Linked DNA regions of Homo sapiens: regions 2, 3, 4 and 5 are each reported to be linked to region 1. The links are microRNA targets in miRTarBase. Many come from high-throughput screens and were not tested one by one. Region 1 holds a microRNA gene; each other region holds the end of a gene's coding sequence.

Region 1 (4,191 bases):
CACCTCATGCCGAGATGAGGGCAGAGGTAAGTCACCTGCAACCATCACATCCTCAAGGTCGGCAGCTCCTGTTAACAAGCACCAACTGGCACATCCAAAACTTCCCAGGTGCCTACAGCAGAGCCACTGTTTCCAGAGATGAGGCAAAGCACTAACAACAATTCATGTAAACATAATAAATGCCAAGTATGTTCCCAGTACCTTTAACATCTCAGTAAGGTTTCTCATCACTTGAGAGACAGCCTCTTTTGTGTCTCCACTTTATAGGTGAGAAAGCCAAGGCTCAGAGGGAGTAAGGCCGAGCTGAGCGCTAAGCACAAAGCTAATGATGGTCACAGAGCAGCCAGGTGGCAGAGCAGCAGTCTTGGCTGAGACGGCACTGTGCTGAAGGAACCTGTTTAAATGATTCATCCTATAGATTTTCCCCCAACGATATGGAAATTTTCCGACCATGATCACAGAAGCCCTCCTTGGACAACACTCAGAAGTGGTGGTATCTCTCAACTTCTGGATTTAATGAAAACAGGAAAACAGGAAGGGAGCTGGGGATATGCGAGGCAATACGATCATGAGGACCAGAAGAGGCTTGGCCAGGGTGGCCATAGGGCAGCATCAGCATTCCCACTAAGTACACTGGAAGCTCACACAAGCACAATTGTTTTAAAATGTGTCCTTCCTGACTATGATGTAGGATATGACTGGATCTCCCGGCCAAGGGAAGTTGGGCCAAAGGCCACACCTAGCTCCTGTTCTCCTCTCCTTTCTGTTGTCAGCTGAGAAAAGAACTGCAACCTAAATCCTCCTGAGGCCACAGCTTGCGGCTGGCCACCAGTCCTATGAGATGGTACAACAAAACCACTGGCTGGATGGGACTCCAGTGGGCCAGCGGGGCCCAGGCTGGCCCCATCCTGGCCTGGCCACAGGAGACAACATGGTTAGAGACTGCTGGCATGCCACTGCAACTAAAATCCATCTACCAAGTAATCATCCCAGAGCAAGTCACTTTAATTTACCAAAGTGGCAAACTGCAATTATTGTTCAAAATGACATTCATTCCTGTATGACAACATTTAATACACTCTAAAAAAAGTTCCTTAATTGCATGCATAATTTAAAATTACTGTAATTTGTTCAAGATCCTGTGAAAACCGTTTTCCCCCCTTGAAAGATAAAAGAAACAGAAGGATAATGAAAAGACTTAAGATTCTATAACCACATTATAGAAATAATTTCGGAGATGGTGTAGATGTAGGTGACACTGGAGTTTTACAAAACAAAGTAAAAATGATTAACTCTTAAAATCGCACATACGTTAAAGAGCAAAGTTTATAATCTCAGGAGGGCCATGCTCATTACACTATTATGCAGTACCTTTAAATTTACTGTCTTAAAAACTTGTACTCAACAGATGTTTCCCATTTACTTATTTCCATATTAAAATAAATTCTATGCCCAGAAATTCATTAACATATGAAAACATATTGCCATTTTTATTCTCATCTTTCTTATGATTATAGAATTTTATTAGTTATGGAGAAGCCGAGAGATACACTCTTAGCTGAAATGAAAGATGAAACAATGTGAGTGATTCGGGGGGAAGACCTGGCTCCCTAAACTGACCCAGGGCTTCCACAGGCAGCCGGGTACATCAGGGCCTGAAGCTGAAAGGCCTGGACACTGTCTCTGTGGCCTTAACAGGCTGCTTGGCCTCTGTGTGCTTCAGATTCCCAGGCTACATGAAATCAGGAAGAAAAATCTACCTTAAAAAGCTGAGTGGAACATCATGACATGAAAGCCACTGACCAAGAAGTGAAGAAGCTCTTGGCTCCACAGAAGGCCATGCTGATACCCTTTCCATAGGCAGAAATATGGATACATGAAACCTCGATGTTTGTTTTTCTGTGTACTTATCTCTATGCATCACCCATCCATGCTTAATTTCCCATGAACTCTGAAGAGATGGTCCAGATTAGTAACGCAGGACACTTAAAAAATCCGTTTTCCCTAGAAATCTCTCTGATCTTTGATTTCTTTTGTAAATTGCTTCCTTATCACATCTGCTGTGAAACAGTCACCACATGTGCTCAGAGCAGCCCTGACCACCCACATCTTCCTGCCAAAGAAAAGCTAAACTTCTGGAAGAACGAGTAATACAGCACCCAAGCCCGTGTGATCAGGGAAGCACATCTTTAGAAGCTCCTCTGCGTCCTCTCACCACCACCCAGGGCAGAGGGAAACAGGGCTGTTGGAGGAACGGCCAGCAGCCGGCCAGGGCTGGGTCTCCGGCTCTCTGTGCAGAAGGTTGCTCACCTTCACGTTGGGAGTATAGAGATTCCTGAGAGAGGCCAGGGCGGCGGACAGCCCCTCGGTGCTGTAGCCGATCCACAGGGCTTGGAGATGGCTTGAAGAAATTCCCGTCTTCTTACTGAGGCCCTGGAAACAATCGAGACAGATCTTGGAAACAATCAGAGACAGATCTGCCTGAGCATCTCCTTCCCACCTGCAGGGTCACTCTGAAAGTGGGTCTGCCGCAGAGGGTGCAGATACCTGCAGAAGGCACGGGGTCACACACAAAGAATGCCTGGACATGCGAGCTTTCACTACCTGAAACCAAGGGTCAAGGAACCAGCCTGCCTTCACTAGGTTAACTTTGTGCCTTGGGAGAGAGATGGCAGATGAGAGTTTCTCTTTGAGTCAGAGTCTTGCTGTGTCGCCCAGGCTGGAAGTGCAGTGGTGCAATCTCAACTCACTTCAACCTCCACCTCCCAGGCTCAAGTGATTCTCATCCCTCAGCCTCTCAAGTACCTGGGATTACAGATACATGCCACCACTCCCAGCTAATTTTTGTATTTTTAGTAGAGACAAGGTTTTACCATGTTGGAAGTAAATTAGAGGAAGAATAAATGACAGAATTAGAATATCACCATCTGAGCCCTGCAAGGTGGAGCGTGCCTATAGTCCCAGTTACTTGGGAGGCTGAGGCGGGAGGATGGCTTGAGTCCAGTAAGCTATGATCCCACCACTGCTCTCCAGCCTGGGCAAACACAGTCAGAAAGTCCAGGTGGTACAAAATCACACAGGTCAAGAAACTCAGGTTCTCGAACAAATCAATAATAAGGAAACAAAAAGTAATGAACAAAGTGGAACCTTTAGATAAAAAGAAACTTATCAGAGATTTAAAGGTGGAAAGAAGTAAAACTTAAGCACAGCACTCTGATATACACTTGAGCAATCAACTATAGCAAAATGCAAGGAAATGCCCAGGCTGAGTCAGAACAGCGGTTACTTTTGGAGAGGGGAGGCAGGAGGAGGTTGCATTTGGGCTGAGGTGCATGGAGCGTTTCTTGGATGGCTGACAGAGCTGTCTAAAATCTCCAAAGCAAAACCTCAAAATGACAACAAAGAAACCCTTCCCCAAGTTGGTGTGCATCTCACCTTGAAAATGTGCGCCTTCAGGATGTGGTGGCCAAGCTCCATGGTCTGCTGGCGGTTCAACTTGCCCTCCTGACGCGAGAACATGAATGCCAAGAGCGCGTGCCCGTTCCTAGGGGAAGGAATACAAAGGCTCACAGCAGAAGAGCCCATTCCACCACACCGCAGACCCACCCTCAATTCACCACCCATTGCCTTAGTCACTGATTTATGCCCGTGACAAAGATGTAAACTCCGGGAGGCTAAGGGTCTCATCTGAGTCATAATGCCTAGCAAAGTGCTGAGCACTTGGTGAACACTCAAATGTGTTTCTGGAATGCATGCATGAATAGACACAGAGCACAGAACCATCCCTGGGCCTAGCCTTCAGGTCCCCTCAGGATCACCACCACTAGGGGTAGACAAAGGACAAGGTCTCACGTGGGAAGGAGAGAAAAGCCAGGCCGTGCTAGGTGACAGCTCATGATCAAGAAAGCAGAGAATTCTAGGCTTGGATGGCACACAAGTCCTTGTGGTGAGAAGAAGGCTAAGGCATCTAAGTGGGTTTGCTGTGGCTGGCACATGGTGGACATCCAGCCAACAGCACCCATTTCCCTTTTGTGAAGGTACCATCCTGCCTATTTTCCTGCCCATTTCCCTTTTGTGAAAGGGCCATCCTGCCCATTTGCCCTCCATGTCCATAGGACTCACTCTGTCTTCCTGTGGATCCCATGCCTTTGAGCCAATTAGTTTCTAAATGACACACAGAGTTGCTTATTC
Region 2 (4,000 bases), not on the chromosome of region 1:
AGCAACTAGTGGAGGGGGAAGGGGATTCTGGTGGGGGTGCTGGCCCCCAGCCTAAGTCTTCCCCACAGGCAATATGTGCTGTGCACCCTGTCCCGTATCACCACGTTCGACTTCAGTGGGGTCACCAAAGCAGACCGCACCACAGCTGAAGTCTGGAAACGCATGAACATCAAGCCCAAGAAGGCCTGGACCAAGCAGAATACACTTTGAGGCTCCCACGACCCTAGTAGTCCTAAAGGCCTAAGCATAGACAGCATGGTTTGACAATAAATAATTTGAGCTGTTGAGCAGATGAGAAGTCACTTACACCTTGTAGAGATGTTCTCTAACTCAGGCAACTGCAAGTAGCTCTAGCCTTTTCTTTTCTTTTTTTTTTTTTTGAGACGGAGTCTCACTCTGTCACACAGGCTGGAGTGCAGTGGCACGATCTTGGCTCACTGCAACCTCAGCCTCCCAGGTTCAAGAGATTCTCCTGCCTCAGCCTCCCCAGTAGCTGTGATTAAAGGCGCCTGCCACCATGACTGGCTAATTTTGTTGTTGTTGTTGTTGTTTTGAGACGGTTTCACTCGTCACCCCAGCTGGAGTGCAGTGGTGCGATCTCAGCTCACTGCAACCTCCGCCTGCTGGGTTCAAGCGATTCTCCTGCCTCAGCCTCCTGAGTAGCTGGGATTACAGGCGCCTGCTACCACATCCAGCTAATTTTTTTTTTTGAGACGGAGTCTCGCTCTGTCACCCAGGCTGGAGTGCAGTGGCACGATCTCGGCTCACTGCAAACTCCGCCTTCCAGGTTCACGCCATTCTCCTGCCTCAGCCTCCCAAGTAGCTGGGACTATAGGCACCTACTACCACGCCTGGCTAATTTTTTGTATTTTTAGTAGAGACGGGGTTTCACCATGTTAGCCAGGATGGTCTCCATCTCCTGACCTTGTGATCCACCCACCTCGGCTTCCCCCAGCTAATTTTTTATATTTTAGTAGAGACAAGGTTTCGCCATGTTGGCCAGGCTGGTCTTGAACTCCTGACCTCAGGTGATCCGTCTGCTTTGGCCTCCCAAAGTGCTGGGATTAGAAGCGTGAGCCACCACGCCCAGCCTTTTTTTGTATTTTTAGTAGAGATGGGGTTTCGCCATGTTGGCCAGGCTGGTCTCAAACTCCTGACCTCAGGTGATCTGCCCACCTCAGCCTCCCAAAGTGCTAGGATTACAGGATAAGCCACTGCACCTGGCCAGCTCTAGTCTTATTTTGCTGAAAAAGGGAGGCAATTGAGGGAAAGGCCTGCTGGCCTGGGACACTGGAGACGTGGGTTTACCACACAGCCTTGGGAAATTTATCTAACTCTCTGGGCCCCTTTGTACTTTTCAGCTTAGAGATTTGGGGGTTAAAGTAGATCAGTAATTTCCAAACTCTTCACAGAGTACCAGGGTCTGTAGAGATGCCTCACAGGCCTCCATGACAGGCCAAGAAGATGGCCTATGATCTCTGAAACCAGCCCCCACTTCAATCAGATCAAAGTAATTCCATTCTGTTTTATATGCTGGGATTCTGCTTAAGATTTCATTTGATAAAAAGAATCTTCTGCTTAAAAACATTTGCTTGCTGACTCCATATTAGGTATTCCCAGAAGAGCCTGGTCTGCTTTCTCTCTCCACCCCCCAACCCGCCATGTCTCCCTTCACCCCCAGGGGCTGTTGGTAATTCCATTGAGTCTGAGGCAGGGCCCCCAAGAATCAAAGCTGCCTCAGATTCAGGTCTGTTCAGCTTTGACAGTGTTCCCATCATCACTGGACAAGGGACAAGAACAGTCTCATCCAGTCTGAGGTTAGCCCAAGCCAGGTCTCAGCTAAGAGCTGACACCCTAAACCCTTGTCTCTTGGGTTCATCTTCAATATCCCTGGAAGATGTCCCCTTCCCCCCATCTTACTCTCATAGACCTAAGTAATCAAAAGTAGAATGGGTAGAACAGAGGGGCCAGAACCAGCACATGGATGAATATACTTCCTTTATCGAGGGTGACAAACCAAAACAAAAAAAGACCAAACATGTAAAAACCCAGGGTTCTAGAAATACAAACTCAATTCATTCAAATTCAAGCTCATCCAGACCCTGGTCACAAACCCTAGTGAGGTGCATGTGAGCACCAAGTCAGGGAGAGGGGGCAGGAGTGACTCTGAGGCCAACAGAGAGGGTGGGAAGGGGATCTCCCTAGGTCCCCTGGTGATCACCCCCCACCCAAACTGGTATCTCCACATTCTCAATGACTATGAAGACATACCAGGCTCTGTCCTTTTGGCCCCCACCCCATCCCTGGCCAGAGCTTCAAAGGCCAGTCCCAAAAGGTTCTACCCTCACTTGCTCAGGCTTCTAGCCTTCCTCTTCTCCTCCTTCTTCACATTTTTCTCTGTGATTAGTAGCAGGTTAGGGTACTGTATAAGCCGCAGTGAGGCTGGGGGCCAAGGGGGTGGGGTAGAGATGGGATGAAGAGAGGAGAAGAGCTGTCCAAGGACCCCTCTCTTCATGGGATCCCAAACTGTACAACCAGCTCCTCTTTTGCGTCCACACGGATCTGAGAAAGTGCACTGTAGGCATAAGCAGCTATCCTGGAGACCTGAGACAGAGAGGGGCCGGGGAGGAGAGGAACAGAGACAGGTGAGGAGGGCAATCAGGAAAAATGGGGAGGGGAGATTAGATGGTGATGGAGAAGGAGGGAATGAAGGGGAACAGGAAGGCAAAGAGAAAGACAGGGATGGGAGAGACAGAAGGAAAAGAACAAAGGGGAGTGAAACAATAAAGGTTGCAGGAAGGAGATAGGAAAGACATAAAAAGTTAAGAGAACGAGGTGGGAGGGAGCTGGGGCCTACAAGGCTACCAGGCTCCCTAACTCCACCTTCCCTACCTCCTCTGAGGCAGAGTGGGTGAACCCTCTGCCATACCCTGGGCAGTGTGAGAAGGGTGGGCAGGGGCAGGTGAGGGGTGTCTCACCTGCTGCAAATCAGAGAACGGGATGGGCTCACTGGCCAGCACTTGGTGGGGCTGGCTGGTAAGAGACGGCAGCGGTGGCAGCTTCTTCCAATGGGTCAGGCTGCTGCTCAGCACAGCCAAGCGGGTGCTGACCAAGAGAGAGGGGGTGGGGGTAGGCAGTTAAGCCACAGTCTGCCCTGCCCAGCCCAGGTAAGCCTCATCCCCTCAGGCCAGAGAAGCAGGGTGTCGAGGAGGGGTATCTGGGAGGGAAGGTCTCAGCTCATCACAGACTCAATCTAGGCCCATCTCCCTTGGCCTCAGCGCCCTCAAGAGTGTCACAGGGTAAACAGGGCTGACATGAATAACTACTGAAGCACCCAAGTGATCTGTGGTCAGTCTCCAGGGCTGCACCAAATGAGAAGCTTGGACTAGGGGCCAGGCTCCAAAGCTGGAACAGTGATGGAGGGTGGGAGCCCAAGTAGCCTGAGGGACCCACGCTGGCCAGGTGCTCACCTGTACTGCCTGGCACGGTCCATGTACTCATGCTGCTCCATGCCCTGTGAGTCTGCAGCAGACACATCAATGATGTTGCTATGGGGAGAGGAGACAGAGATGACATGACAGGTGCTTCCGAGAAGGACAAACAGGACTCAGTGCCAGGTACCAACTCCAGGGCTATCTGACACCAGTTTCCCTCCTGCCTACTGGAGCAGGGCTGGACATGGAGGCACCTCTCCCCAGTGACCTTGTCCCATCCCCCATGTCCTGAGCCTGGCTCCTTCTATCCTAGCCTTTAATATGGATAGAGGAGCTCTGACCCAGGCCTGGTCCTCTGACACTTACCTGGCTGTCTTGGCAAGGATGGAAGAGAGCAGGGCCTGCTCATCAGTGCGAGCGGAAGGCAGGCTGTGGTAGTTGGGCTCGGCTCCATTGAGAGCTTTGGTAGGGGGGCTGCTAGGGTCCAGCAGCAGCTTCCGCTCCTCTCGGTCCTAGAAGTGGTCATGGGAGAGAAGTCAGCCCCAGGACCCGTAGATCCTGCCTTT
Region 3 (4,191 bases), not on the chromosome of region 1:
TTGGACTTTCTTCCACCATCTCCGGGAACAGATCCGCAGAGAGTTCACCCTGCACGACCACCTTCGGGAAGAGGCGCAGAGTGTGCTGGGTCAGCTCCGCCTGGGCCGCACAGGGGACCGCCCGCGCACCTTTGTCGGCGTCCACGTGCGCCGTGGGGACTATCTGCAGGTTATGCCTCAGCGCTGGAAGGGTGTGGTGGGCGACAGCGCCTACCTCCGGCAGGCCATGGACTGGTTCCGGGCACGGCACGAAGCCCCCGTTTTCGTGGTCACCAGCAACGGCATGGAGTGGTGTAAAGAAAACATCGACACCTCCCAGGGCGATGTGACGTTTGCTGGCGATGGACAGGAGGCTACACCGTGGAAAGACTTTGCCCTGCTCACACAGTGCAACCACACCATTATGACCATTGGCACCTTCGGCTTCTGGGCTGCCTACCTGGCTGGCGGAGACACTGTCTACCTGGCCAACTTCACCCTGCCAGACTCTGAGTTCCTGAAGATCTTTAAGCCGGAGGCGGCCTTCCTGCCCGAGTGGGTGGGCATTAATGCAGACTTGTCTCCACTCTGGACATTGGCTAAGCCTTGAGAGCCAGGGAGACTTTCTGAAGTAGCCTGATCTTTCTAGAGCCAGCAGTACGTGGCTTCAGAGGCCTGGCATCTTCTGGAGAAGCTTGTGGTGTTCCTGAAGCAAATGGGTGCCCGTATCCAGAGTGATTCTAGTTGGGAGAGTTGGAGAGAAGGGGGACGTTTCTGGAACTGTCTGAATATTCTAGAACTAGCAAAACATCTTTTCCTGATGGCTGGCAGGCAGTTCTAGAAGCCACAGTGCCCACCTGCTCTTCCCAGCCCATATCTACAGTACTTCCAGATGGCTGCCCCCAGGAATGGGGAACTCTCCCTCTGGTCTACTCTAGAAGAGGGGTTACTTCTCCCCTGGGTCCTCCAAAGACTGAAGGAGCATATGATTGCTCCAGAGCAAGCATTCACCAAGTCCCCTTCTGTGTTTCTGGAGTGATTCTAGAGGGAGACTTGTTCTAGAGAGGACCAGGTTTGATGCCTGTGAAGAACCCTGCAGGGCCCTTATGGACAGGATGGGGTTCTGGAAATCCAGATAACTAAGGTGAAGAATCTTTTTAGTTTTTTTTTTTTTTTTTTGGAGACAGGGTCTCGCTCTGTTGCCCAGGCTGGAGTGCAGTGGCGTGATCTTGGCTCACTGCAACTTCCGCCTCCTGTGTTCAAGCGATTCTCCTGTCTCAGCCTCCTGAGTAGATGGGACTACAGGCACAGGCCATTATGCCTGGCTAATTTTTGTATTTTTAGTAGAGACAGGGTTTCACCATGTTGGCCAGGATGGTCTCGATCTCCTGACCTTGTCATCCACCTGTCTTGGCCTCCCAAAGTGCTGGGATTACTGGCATGAGCCACTGTGCCCAGCCCGGATATTTTTTTTTTAATTATTTATTTATTTATTTATTTATTGAGACGGAGTCTTGCTCTGTAGCCCAGGCCAGAGTGCAGTGGCGCGATCTCAGCTCACTGCAAGCTCTGCCTCCCGGGTTCATGCCATTCTGCCTCAGCCTCCTGAGTAGCTGGGACTACAGGCGCCCGCCACCACGCCCGGCTAATTTTTTTTGTATTTTTAGTAGAGACGGGGTTTCATCGTGTTAACCAGGATGGTCTCGATCTCCTGACCTCGTGATCTGCCCACCTCGGCCTCCCACAGTGCTGGGATTACCGGCGTGAGCCACCATGCCTGGCCCGGATAATTTTTTTTAATTTTTGTAGAGACGAGGTCTTGTGATATTGCCCAGGCTGTTCTTCAACTCCTGGGCTCAAGCAGTCCTCCCACCTTGGCCTCCCAGAATGCTGGGTTTATAGATGTGAGCCAGCACACCGGGCCAAGTGAAGAATCTAATGAATGTGCAACCTAATTGTAGCATCTAATGAATGTTCCACCATTGCTGGAAAAATTGAGATGGAAAACAAACCATCTCTAGTTGGCCAGCGTCTTGCTCTGTTCACAGTCTCTGGAAAAGCTGGGGTAGTTGGTGAGCAGAGCGGGACTCTGTCCAACAAGCCCCACAGCCCCTCAAAGACTTTTTTTTGTTTGTTTTGAGCAGACAGGCTAAAATGTGAACGTGGGGTGAGGGATCACTGCCAAAATGGTACAGCTTCTGGAGCAGAACTTTCCAGGGATCCAGGGACACTTTTTTTTAAAGCTCATAAACTGCCAAGAGCTCCATATATTGGGTGTGAGTTCAGGTTGCCTCTCACAATGAAGGAAGTTGGTCTTTGTCTGCAGGTGGGCTGCTGAGGGTCTGGGATCTGTTTTCTGGAAGTGTGCAGGTATAAACACACCCTCTGTGCTTGTGACAAACTGGCAGGTACCGTGCTCATTGCTAACCACTGTCTGTCCCTGAACTCCCAGAACCACTACATCTGGCTTTGGGCAGGTCTGAGATAAAACGATCTAAAGGTAGGCAGACCCTGGACCCAGCCTCAGATCCAGGCAGGAGCACGAGGTCTGGCCAAGGTGGACGGGGTTGTCGAGATCTCAGGAGCCCCTTGCTGTTTTTTGGAGGGTGAAAGAAGAAACCTTAAACATAGTCAGCTCTGATCACATCCCCTGTCTACTCATCCAGACCCCATGCCTGTAGGCTTATCAGGGAGTTACAGTTACAATTGTTACAGTACTGTTCCCAACTCAGCTGCCACGGGTGAGAGAGCAGGAGGTATGAATTAAAAGTCTACAGCACTAACCCGTGTCTCTGTAGCTTTTTTGGAGCCAGAGCCACTGTGTATGTGTGTGTGGGTTTGTGTGTGTGTGTGTGTGTGTGTGTGTGTAAGAGAGTGGAGGAAAAGGTGGGGTACTTCTGAAGACTTTTATTTTTTTTTAATTAATTTATTTTTTTTCAGAGATCGAGTCTTGCTCTGTGGCCCAGGCTGGAGTGCAGTAGTGTGATCTCGGCCCACTGCAAACTCCCACCTCTCGGATTCTGGTGCCTCAGCCTCCCAAGTAGCTGGGACTACAGACGTTCGCCACCATGCCCAGCTAATTTTTGTATTTTTAGTAGAGACGGGGTTTCACCATGTTAGCCAGGCTGGCCTCGAACTCCTGACCTCAGACAATCTGCCCGCCTCGGCCTCCCAAAGCGCTGGAATTACAAGCGTGAGCCACCGCGCCGGGCCCTGAGGATTTTTATTACTCGTGATTGGGAGTACTGTCCCTACTTAGATCTGACAGCCCCTTGTTGCTGGACTTGTGTGAGTTGTGGTCCCTGTTTTTCTGGTTCCCTGTTTCTATCACACAGGAGAGAGAGACCTTCCAGGACCCTAACGTCTGAGCCCCCAGTTGCTCACTCCTGGACTGTCAGTATTGGCCCCCAGTCCTCTCCTCCCACTGGGACCTCCGCGTGGGCAGAAGAGGCGGAGGAGGGAGCGGATTATCACTGAACTACATTTCCCGGAAAGCTATGAGGTTGGCAGCGTCAGTCAGCTACAGAGAAAGAGGCCCCAGGGCATTTTGGGAGTTGTAGTCTTAGGGCTAAAATGTCCACTTCGTGGCTCGACAGCCGTTTCCAAGGACCGCGGTGGGGGCGGCAGCGGCCTGGGGGGCCGGATCTAGCCCAAAGCCTGGGTCCTGGGGCAAGGGGAGGGGAGGAAACTGAAGGCCTGAGTCCGGTCCTTGACTCTGGAAGCCAGAGTAGTCAGGAGGCTTCCTCTTCCCTAGATGCTGGGAAAATTCTAGTCCAAAAAGGCTGCAGCCTCTGTGACGTCATGGAGCGATGGGCGGGACCTCCCTTTGTTGCAGTCCAATCAGACAGAGTTGAGTTTCTGGGTGGGGCCGAGGAAAACCCCAAGGAATATCTATAAAGGAATTCGGGCCCCTACGTGAGAAGCTCGGAGGGGGTGGTTTCAGGAGTTCCTTGTGGAGAGGGGATCGTCCGTGACTCAGACCCCGTCGAAAAGCTCTCGATTTCACGCAACCAACCTTACCCTCGTCCCCAACACAATCCTTGATTTTACCCCTGGGAAAATTAGCGTAGGTGGTCATGACCCCGGCTTCCTCTTTAAAAGCCCTCAGAACCTGGACCGGGCTCCTCAATGAACCCTAGTGTTAGAGGCCACAAATCGGGAACCAAGGTCGGGGAGCGGCTGTTTAGGGTGCATCACTGTTCAGGATGCATC
Region 4 (4,000 bases), not on the chromosome of region 1:
ACCCCAGAGACCAGCCCCAGCCCCCACAACCGGACCATCACCCTGGGGAGCAGGTGAAGCTGTTGAGGGTGATGGCACGGGGCAGGGATGGACCTGCTCAGCCCAGTGTCAGAACTGCTTAGCGGTGTTCTGTCCTGGCAGCTCTGGAGCCATGGAGGCCATGGGGCCTGAAGCTCAGTTTGCCCCGCTCTGAGTATGAGAACAGGCTATGCCAGTTAAAGTTCCAAATACAGGGAGAAGCTGATGGAGACTATGGAGGCAGAGGGGTCCGGCTGATTGCCCTCCCCTCACAAACCACCCCCTGGTTCAGCTACTTGCTCTGCCGTGGGGCCACCCCTCTTAGGTTTGGCGCACAAGATCACTGAGTGGTCATGGACAGTACTAGCCACAGATGGCTAAACTTGGCCTCACCACCTTCTCTCCCACAAGCAGGGGGTGCTTGCCTTGGTTTAGACAACCCAGGGGGCGGGGTGGCCTCTTAAGATGTCTCCCAGGCAAAAGTGGCCTGATCTGCTGCTCCAAAGATGAAAGAAGACTGGAGAGAGGCAGGTGTTCCCTGGACACTGTGGCTGCAGTCTACCCACTCTTCCGTCGTACACACAGGCTTGGGGAGGAAAGGGCCTCTTTCCCGGGGCCCACAGCACAGCCAGGCCTAAAACTGTCTCCTGGCTCAGCCCAGCCGTTGGAAAGCAGAGCCTGGGAGCCTGTGGTAGACCATGAGGAGAGGGAAGGGCCCAGAGCCAGGGCTTTTGCCATTTGCTGCCCGGCAGGGATCAGGGCCACCTGGGCAAAGACAGGGAGGTGAGGAAGGCAGGGCAGGTGTGGGACGAAGCTTGAATGGATAGGCATGAGTCTCCACAGCCCAGCCTCAGGCTGGCCAGGGGTGGCGGCGGCTGCAGGCTGTGAAATGTGTGAGTGTGTGTCCGTGTGTGGGTAGATGTGGTGTGAGTGTGTGTGTGGTGCGGGTGATGGAATGCATGAGCCTGCGGAATGTATGTGAGTACGTGACTGTATGGAAAGTCTGTGTGAGTGTATGTGTGTGTGCATACAGGTGTGAAGTGTGTGTGTGTGTGAGTGTGTGAGTGTGTGTGTGTGTGTGTGTGTGTGTGTGTGCTGGGGGGCTGGCTAAATCCTTCCCCTGTCCCGCCCCAACCCAGCTTAGCCTCTAGGGTTTCAGCCACTGTCCTAAAGAAAACAGCCTGGAGCCTGCAGCAGGAAATCGCTGTTTGGATTGCAGAGGCGCCTCTTCCTGCCACAGCCCTGCGGAGCAGGGAGGGCCAGGAGCAGGCCTTCCTGCCCACCTGGACCAGATATCGAGCTGGTCAGGAGCCCCTTCACCCCCTGATCTGGCCTCCCTAACGCCCTTCAGACCCCAGCCTTGAGGACTGAATGGGAAACCCTCCCACCGTTGTCTCTCGAGGGCAGTGGGAGAAGTGGATGCCCCCGAGGCTGAGTGAGCCGAGGCTGGAACACCCTCACAGAGGAAAGCCAGGCAGTCCTGTCAATGGTAGGTCCAGCAATCCCACATTCACGAACATTCTGCCGATACAGCTCATTCATGCAAAAGGGTGTGCCTCGCTCAGCCTGGTTTGTACCAAAGCGCTTGAGAGCGGATTAAGCAGAGCTGGGGGTCCCTGGACTGTGGCGCATCCATCCAGGGCAACTCAGCCAGCTCTCCATGTGCTGGGAAGGAAGCTCCCCAAGACATGGCCAGGTGGGAAAAACAGGGTACAGTGCAGTGTGTACAGGATCCTCACATCTTCGTAAAAAAAGAAAACACATACATGTAAATGCTTGTGTGTGCACAGATCAGACTTTCAAACCTTCCGTACCTTGGGCAGGCAATAACTAAGAAAATATATAAAAATACGCACAAATAGATACATGAGTGCTGGGGGTGCCTCGGGGACCCTCTACCGGCTTGATTGTGAGACCCCAGGCAGGTCCCTTCCTCTCTGTGTCCTGAATTTCTTGTGTGCTCTCAGAGGTCAGAAAACCTTGAAGCTGGTGAAGTGAGGCGTGTGTGCGTGGAGATGGAGTGGGGAGGGGGTGGGGGGCTAGTTTGCGTTGCCTGTTAGAACCTCCTCCTCCTGCTGCAATGAAACCCACTCCCAAGGCCATAGGCTGCTCCCTCCTGTGACATTCCTTAAGAGAGTTTGGATTTCATCTGGCCCTTTTCCCCAGTCCCCACTCCTTCCTTCCAGAATCCCTCGGAACCACTCCAAGCCTTCATTCCTGGAAGCAGTGCCCACTAATACCCCTGCAGCCCCCGTCTCAAGGCCTTCATCAGCTGAGTGTTCTCCAAGTTGCCCCAACTGTCCCAGAGCCTCTCATGCCCCCTGGACCTCTCCTGGCCTCCTCCAGGTCCAGGATATGTGTGGGGGGTGCTGGTCCAGCTGCCCCCAGTGCGGCCCTGCGATCCTCACAGCCGCCATTGCTTCTCAGGCCCTTCCCTCTGCACTCCAAGGCCGCCCCACAGATGGCCGTAGGGGCCCATGCAGTCCTGACAAGGCTTCCTTCTTTCTCAGACGCCTGGCAATAGGGGGATGCCTGAGGCTGGGTGTGTGACCCCCACTGGGCCTCCAGTGAAGCCCAGGGGCAAGTCTGGGCTGCCCCAGGCCTGGAGTAGCCCCCTCCCAGGCACCCCTCTGGCACTGTCATGGGCATCACCTATGCCTTGGAGCGACTTCATGGGATAGAGCTGGAGAAGCTGAAGTCAGCAGGAGATTAATTAATCAAAACCCGAACACATCTGCTGTTAATTAATTCCATGCCAAGGTTAACTCTTCCCTCTGGGCTTCCCCTCCCCTTGGTGGGAAGAAGGAAATAATGGTGGGAGACAGCACCCCCTTAACCTTCTTCCCTTAGTGGGAAACATGAAGAAGGGAGGGGAACGTGAAGGGCAGGGCAGTTTCTGGGGTAAGAAAGCAGAAGAGGCAGGGCCCCCAGAGGGCAGGGCAGCCTCACCCATGTGGGTGCTTTTTAGCGGTGGTAGGGGGCGTTTGCTTTTGAGAGTCAGGGTCCATGGCAATTAGTCATGAGTCCTGAGGAAATCTGAGATGGACAAATATCTTTATTTACAGCAACAGATAGAACAGACCCTCCCTCCCTTCCCTTCCTTTCCCCTTCCAGTCTTTTCCATACTGTTCCCCCTCCCGCCCCACCCCAGGCTCTCGCCTAGCCCTGCCCTCTGGGGTCACTGCGTGGGTTAGGCCCCCAAAAAAGCCTAGGAAAGGAGACTGGAGAGGGCTGGCTGAGGGTGGGTGGGGCGTCTCTTCACATTTTTCTGTCCTCTAAGCCTGGGGTGGAGGAGAGAGGCAGGCACCAGGAGCAGGGAGAGGTAGAGAGCTACGGCCCCACCGGCCCACCCTCCCCAAGTAACTTTCACAGTGTTCCCCAGCCCTGGCTGCCCCCTGCGGTCCCCACCCCAGCCCTGCCCCTAGGTTGTCCTGTCAGGTCCTCAGCAATGTATGAACCTGGTAACCCAGTAAAGAGTTCAGGCTTCTCTGCCATGGGCCCACCACCCACGGCTGAGGAGGTGGCCCCTCTGAGTGCCCCCCACTATTTTCAAGGCTGGGGTTCTGAGAGGACATGGGTGGGTAGGAGAGGACCAGGGAGAGGGGGCTTCTCAAGCCTTGTGTGACAGTCCTGGGCCTGGCCCCACTCAGAGGGACCCTGCTGGAATCTGCAGGGGCGCCAGGCTGGCTTAGCCCCCGACAGAGGCTCAGGAGGAGAAGCAGAGCCCACAGCACTCCATGCAGATCTCCAGGCAGTCCGCGGACTCGCAGCAGGCATCCAGGATGCCGCAGTCCAGGTCGCAGGGCAGGTCGCAGTCGGCACACTCGCCAGAGCCACAGCAGCAGCAGCAGAGGCACGAGTCCTCCGAGCTGCAGGAGCCACAGGTGGCGCAGTCCAGGACGATGTTGCACAGCGTCAGGAACTCGCAGAACAGGCAGGACAGGATGCAGTGGACACAGCAGTCTGCGGGGTGGCGGTGGAG
Region 5 (4,191 bases), not on the chromosome of region 1:
TCCTATCACTGCTCCAACTGGAAGCAAGGAAGAAAGGACAGTCAACTGCCAGAAATGGCAGAACCAAGGACCCAGAAGGCAGACCCAGTTGAATGAGGCAGAGCTGTTTTCTTCCTAGCTGCCTTCATCATAGAACTGCAGGGAAGATTTCCAAATCCCACCCCCATCAATCAGCCTACTTAGCCTATTGCCTATCTCTAGCTGCCTGAAGGGCCAGCCTGCTTGTTAGCTTCCCTGCTGGGCTGGGCTGCCCGTGGACTGCCGGAGAGTCCACTCTTCCTGCATGCCCCACTTCCCATAGCATCCCGAGGGAGGGAGGTCAAGGCGGGGGCCAGCTACAGCTTCCAAGAAGGGTTCCAAATAGAGCAGGCCTGAGCCCTTACTCCTGAGGAAGTCGGCTTTGTTCTTTCAGGGATCACAGAGCAGCATCTAGTGGCCCTTCTGAGCAGCACAGATTACATAACTAGCACACAGCAGGGGACCAGAGCCTCTGCTCCCAACTCCAGTAGAGTCTCATTAACACACAAGAAAGTCCTGGCACCATGAAGGCTGGAGCCCAGAAGGGAGGTGAGGGAGCCGGGCCCAGGCCAGCCCACCGGCCAGCTGACCTTCCCAGCTGTGCCTGGACTCAGGTCATGAGAGGCCTGGGAGAGGAGGCAGTGACACAACTGCTGGTCCTGGAGGTCTAGAGCTGCGCTGTCCAGATAGAAGCCACATAGGTAACTTTATATTTTCTAGCAGCCACATTACACAAGTAAAAGGGAAACAGGTGAATTTTAATAATATATTTTATTTAACCCAATACCCAAAATATTTCAACACATATATAAAAAAGTTATTGACATATTTTACACTCCTTTTCTTTTGTTATCATACTAAGCCTTCGAAGTCTGGTTTGTGTTTACACTTGCAGTGTATCACAGCTCGAACCAGCCACGTTGCAAGGGCCTGACAGCTGCACATGGCTAGCGGCTACATATTGGACAGCACGGGTCTAGAGGGCATCATCTGACCAAGACCCGCAAAGGGAACTGAGAAAAGGGCTACTGCCTGAGCATCTCAGGACTGCCCTAAGTTTGAGAAAACATCTCCCCTCTACTCCAAAACTAGATCTCTTTGGAGTACTTTTTAAAGTCCTTTATAGAAGCAAAGCTCTTTCTGCAAGTGAAATACAGAGACACAATACTAAAACTGACAATGGCTGAACTGCTCAGACTGAAGAGGATTTAGCAGGTCCCCCAGTGGTCCCAGAGCCCCCCGCCCCCGCCAGGGTGTGAGGCAATATGAAAATCGCTGCCTTTGAAGATTCCAAAAGGAAACGAAACCACAACTGCATGTCAGGACTCTCCAGACACCTGCACGTCTATGACTTACTAAGCTTCACATCACAATCACCTGCCAAGGAAGCAGCATCCTCACTGAGTAGAAGAGAAAGTAGGCTCAGAGGATCTACTGCCCAAACTTACATGTGCTCACTGGACCATGCTGCCCTGGAAGAAGACACCTGAACTCATTTCCAACCTCAGAACTCACACACCAACTTTCTTGCCCCCAAAGCCCTCCAAGTTTGGACCCCAAATTTACCTTAAGGACTCCCATTACACAAATGAGATAACAGCTTTGGCCAGATGAGAGCTAGACTAGTGTGGGGCCACACAGAGCTGTCTGGACTTGCTTGGAAGCCCTCCAGCACTCAAGAAAAAGACACCTTTTGAAAAAAAAAAAAATTATTTTTATTGGAACTCATCTGAACATCAGATATACCTGGTGTTGGTTAGCAAGAACCGTTTGTACATTTGATACTGATGGTGCCAAAACCAAAACAGTGACTAGACATGATGGGGAAAGATGTTGAGAACAAAAACCTGATTTTGGAGAGGAAAATAAAAGCCAGTCAGATTCAGTGAGGATGCAAAACCTGGTACAACAAAATCCTTTTACAAAATATAAATTTATTATGAAAACCTGGAAGGATAATCCAAGGAAGGTAAAGAAAGAGAAAAGGAGGCCAGCAGAAGAAGGCAGGAAGGAGAGGAAAAGAGAAAAAGACAAAGAGGAGATGAGAGAAGAAAATACAGTTCAGCACAACAGAAGTGCAGAAGCTCACCTACCCAAATGGCATTAAAGCCTCGCTGTGTAATCGTGTCAGAAAACAAAGCATACTGACACATAGTGCTCTACTTCCCATCCACTTGAGTTCTAAGAGGTAAATTAAAAAGCTCCCTGGGAAGGGGACATGAGGTTGCTCAAAAACCCAACAAAGAAAATTAAAAAAAAAAGAGAGAGAGAAACCACACCCCACAGTCTCATTTCCGATGTTCATTGTTTAAAAAAGGAATAAATCCATCTGAAAGTAGGAGAGGAGGAGTGGGAGAGGGAGAGAAGCTCATGGCTTTCACAGACAGCCTGACTCCCCTGGAGGGGAGAGGAGGAAGGCAGAGAGACATGATGGTCTCCTGGTTGAGAGGGGAAAGAGAAGGGACAGAGAGGAAAGAAGAGAGGAGAGGAATGCAGGAGAGGAGAAGAGGGGCAATTAAAACACTGACGACTAATCTAGTTTACTGTGTTTAAAAAAAAAAAAAAAGCCACATGCATAGCAGGCCCCTTGGGGGCTAAGGGCCCACACTGCTCCCTGTGTGGCCGTGGTAGACACTAGCTCCTGGCCTCATCCCCATTCCTTCACAGGTCAGAGTGGAGCTATGCAGGCGCTGCTGCTGCTGCTGCTGTTGTTGCTGCAGTGGTGGTGGTGGTGGCGGCGGCGGCAGGACCTTCGGCTACTCTGCTGGAGCCAATGTGGGGAGGGAAGGGCAGACAGGCCGTATGGTAGGGGAAAGAACACCAAAATGCCTCATTTCAAATAAAAAAGAAAACAGCAGTCTATACACAGTTGTTTGTTTTGGTTCAGTACAAACAGAATAAAAAGTCATTGCTTTTGATGGTCAGCAAACACCCAATTCTGAGGAGGAGGAGAGGTGATGCCCAGCAGGTGGATTAGGACCCCCAGTGGTTGGCGGGGTGCCTGGCTTTGCGGCCCTCTCCCAGGAGGCAGAGAGCACAGCTTTAGGTAGTGTAAGCCTTTTTCCTTTTATTTAGAATAATCTTTTTTTTTTTCTTTTTCTTTTTTTTTAAGCAATTTCCCCACTCCCAAGTTGGGCCAGTAAAGATTACATGAAAACTGGCACACCTATTGGCTGGAATACAGATGCACCAAATGAGGATTTAAAAACTTTCCGAGCGAAAAGTAGAACAAAAAGAAAAAAGAATCTCCTAGCATTTTCCCCCAAGGTTTCACTCTCCCGCCACACACACTCTCCAAAGGACCGCTACAGATCCAACTCTGCAAGAGAAGACAGAGCAGTGTCAATCAGGAAGCCATGAGGACACCAGGAGGAGGTTTTCAGTCTCGACACGCAGAAGACAGAGCTGCCCAGCCCTGGGGTCCTGAAGCCAGCACTCACCTATGTCAGTTTCTTGGCTTTGTTGTAGAGGGAATCCACTACTTTGCTCATGTTCTGAATTGTTTCCAGAGCAGCTTCGTAAGTTTTATCTACTGGGGGTTCATCGAAAATAATCAGGACACCCTCCCCCTGGTCCAAAATCCCTGCAAGAAACACAAGGGCAACCCAGGTAAAAGATGAGGTTAGACACAAAAGTGTTTGTGAAGCAGCCCACTCCCTAGTTGACTCACTGTGTCCAGAAAAGAAGGGAAATAGAATTCATCTCCCTATTCCATGTACACATGCTTATTACACATTCTCATCACAGGGAAGAGGGGCCAGGACCCCAGGGTGAACCATCGGGGGAAACAAATAGAACATCTTCTTTGAAAATAAACTTCTTCAACCATCTCATCACCACCACCAGCCCCCTTGCCTGTGTGACTGTTACTTACCATGAAATTTCTTGTCAAGAATCATCTGTGATAATTTCCTTTCCACGTCGGCCTAAAATCAAAGCACATGATTAAAGGGACCAGTATCCACTAGTCAGAGATCACCCTGACACAGTAGCTTTGTTGGAGGGGTCTTAGGCCAAATGGACTGAAAACAAAATAGCAACAATGCAACTCCTACTCTAGTCCACACTGCCCATTCCCCACTGAGAAGCTGGGGAGCTTTCCAATGAGGCCAATCAGGTGCATGTGCCACCCCTCCTCGCCACCCCGTCCCATTCCTCCCTGCAGATGGCCTT

Evidence for each region. The annotated mature microRNA hsa-miR-6888-5p reads AAGGAGAUGCUCAGGCAGAU and lies in region 1 at 2,476-2,495, opposite strand. An mRNA with a match to its seed (bases 2 to 7 or 8) in the 3' UTR can be bound and repressed. Matches are read on the target gene's strand: a 7mer-m8 pairs with bases 2 to 8, a 7mer-A1 pairs with bases 2 to 7 and ends in A, and an 8mer does both.
Region 2: the mRNA of LRRC51 is a reported target of hsa-miR-6888-5p. Seed matches in the 3' UTR shown: 7mer-m8 at 915-921.
Region 3: miRTarBase lists FUT1 as a target of hsa-miR-6888-5p. Seed matches in the 3' UTR shown: 7mer-m8 at 1,363-1,369 and 7mer-m8 at 1,686-1,692.
Region 4: miRTarBase lists MDFI as a target of hsa-miR-6888-5p. Seed matches in the 3' UTR shown: 7mer-A1 at 3,601-3,607.
Region 5: the mRNA of PSMD11 is a reported target of hsa-miR-6888-5p. Seed matches in the 3' UTR shown: 7mer-A1 at 2,355-2,361 and 7mer-m8 at 2,055-2,061.

Annotation. Positions count from the first base shown.
Region 1 is chr2:159,185,144-159,189,334 of GRCh38, reverse strand. MIR6888 (microRNA 6888) reads right to left here and starts at 2,500; the gene lies at 2,434-2,500. TANC1 (tetratricopeptide repeat, ankyrin repeat and coiled-coil containing 1) reads right to left here. Exons shown (of 27, transcript NM_033394.3): 15 at 3,436-3,544; 16 at 2,311-2,433. RefSeq lists a cis regulatory region at 3,648 and an enhancer at 3,564-3,733.
Region 2 is chr11:72,095,311-72,099,310 of GRCh38, forward strand. It overlaps LRRC51 (leucine rich repeat containing 51), which reads left to right. Exons shown (of 6, transcript NM_145309.6): 6 at 69-1,585. The coding sequence ends at 210. All of the region lies in intron 5 of LRTOMT (leucine rich transmembrane and O-methyltransferase domain containing), which reads left to right. LAMTOR1 (late endosomal/lysosomal adaptor, MAPK and MTOR activator 1) reads right to left here. Exons shown (of 5, transcript NM_017907.3): 2 at 3,801-3,946; 3 at 3,471-3,548; 4 at 2,979-3,105; 5 at 1,982-2,604. The coding sequence ends at 2,512. Among named protein-coding and RNA genes, the nearest start is that of LAMTOR1, 6.0 kb to the right of the region's middle.
Region 3 is chr19:48,746,582-48,750,772 of GRCh38, reverse strand. It overlaps FUT1 (fucosyltransferase 1 (H blood group)), which reads left to right. Exons shown (of 2, transcript NM_001384359.1): 2 at 1-2,762. The coding sequence ends at 589. IZUMO1 (izumo sperm-oocyte fusion 1) reads left to right here and starts at 3,864. Exons shown (of 10, transcript NM_182575.3): 1 at 3,864-4,191. RefSeq lists enhancers at 2,798-3,583, 3,584-4,191.
Region 4 is chr6:41,653,300-41,657,299 of GRCh38, reverse strand. MDFI (MyoD family inhibitor) reads right to left here. Exons shown (of 5, transcript NM_005586.4): 5 at 3,056-3,981. The coding sequence ends at 3,725. Among named protein-coding and RNA genes, the nearest start is that of MDFI, 17 kb to the right of the region's middle.
Region 5 is chr17:32,479,899-32,484,089 of GRCh38, reverse strand. It overlaps PSMD11 (proteasome 26S subunit, non-ATPase 11), which reads right to left. Exons shown (of 14, transcript NM_002815.4): 12 at 3,893-3,944; 13 at 3,459-3,601; 14 at 771-3,337. The coding sequence ends at 3,459. Among named protein-coding and RNA genes, the nearest start is that of CDK5R1, 5.0 kb to the left of the region's middle.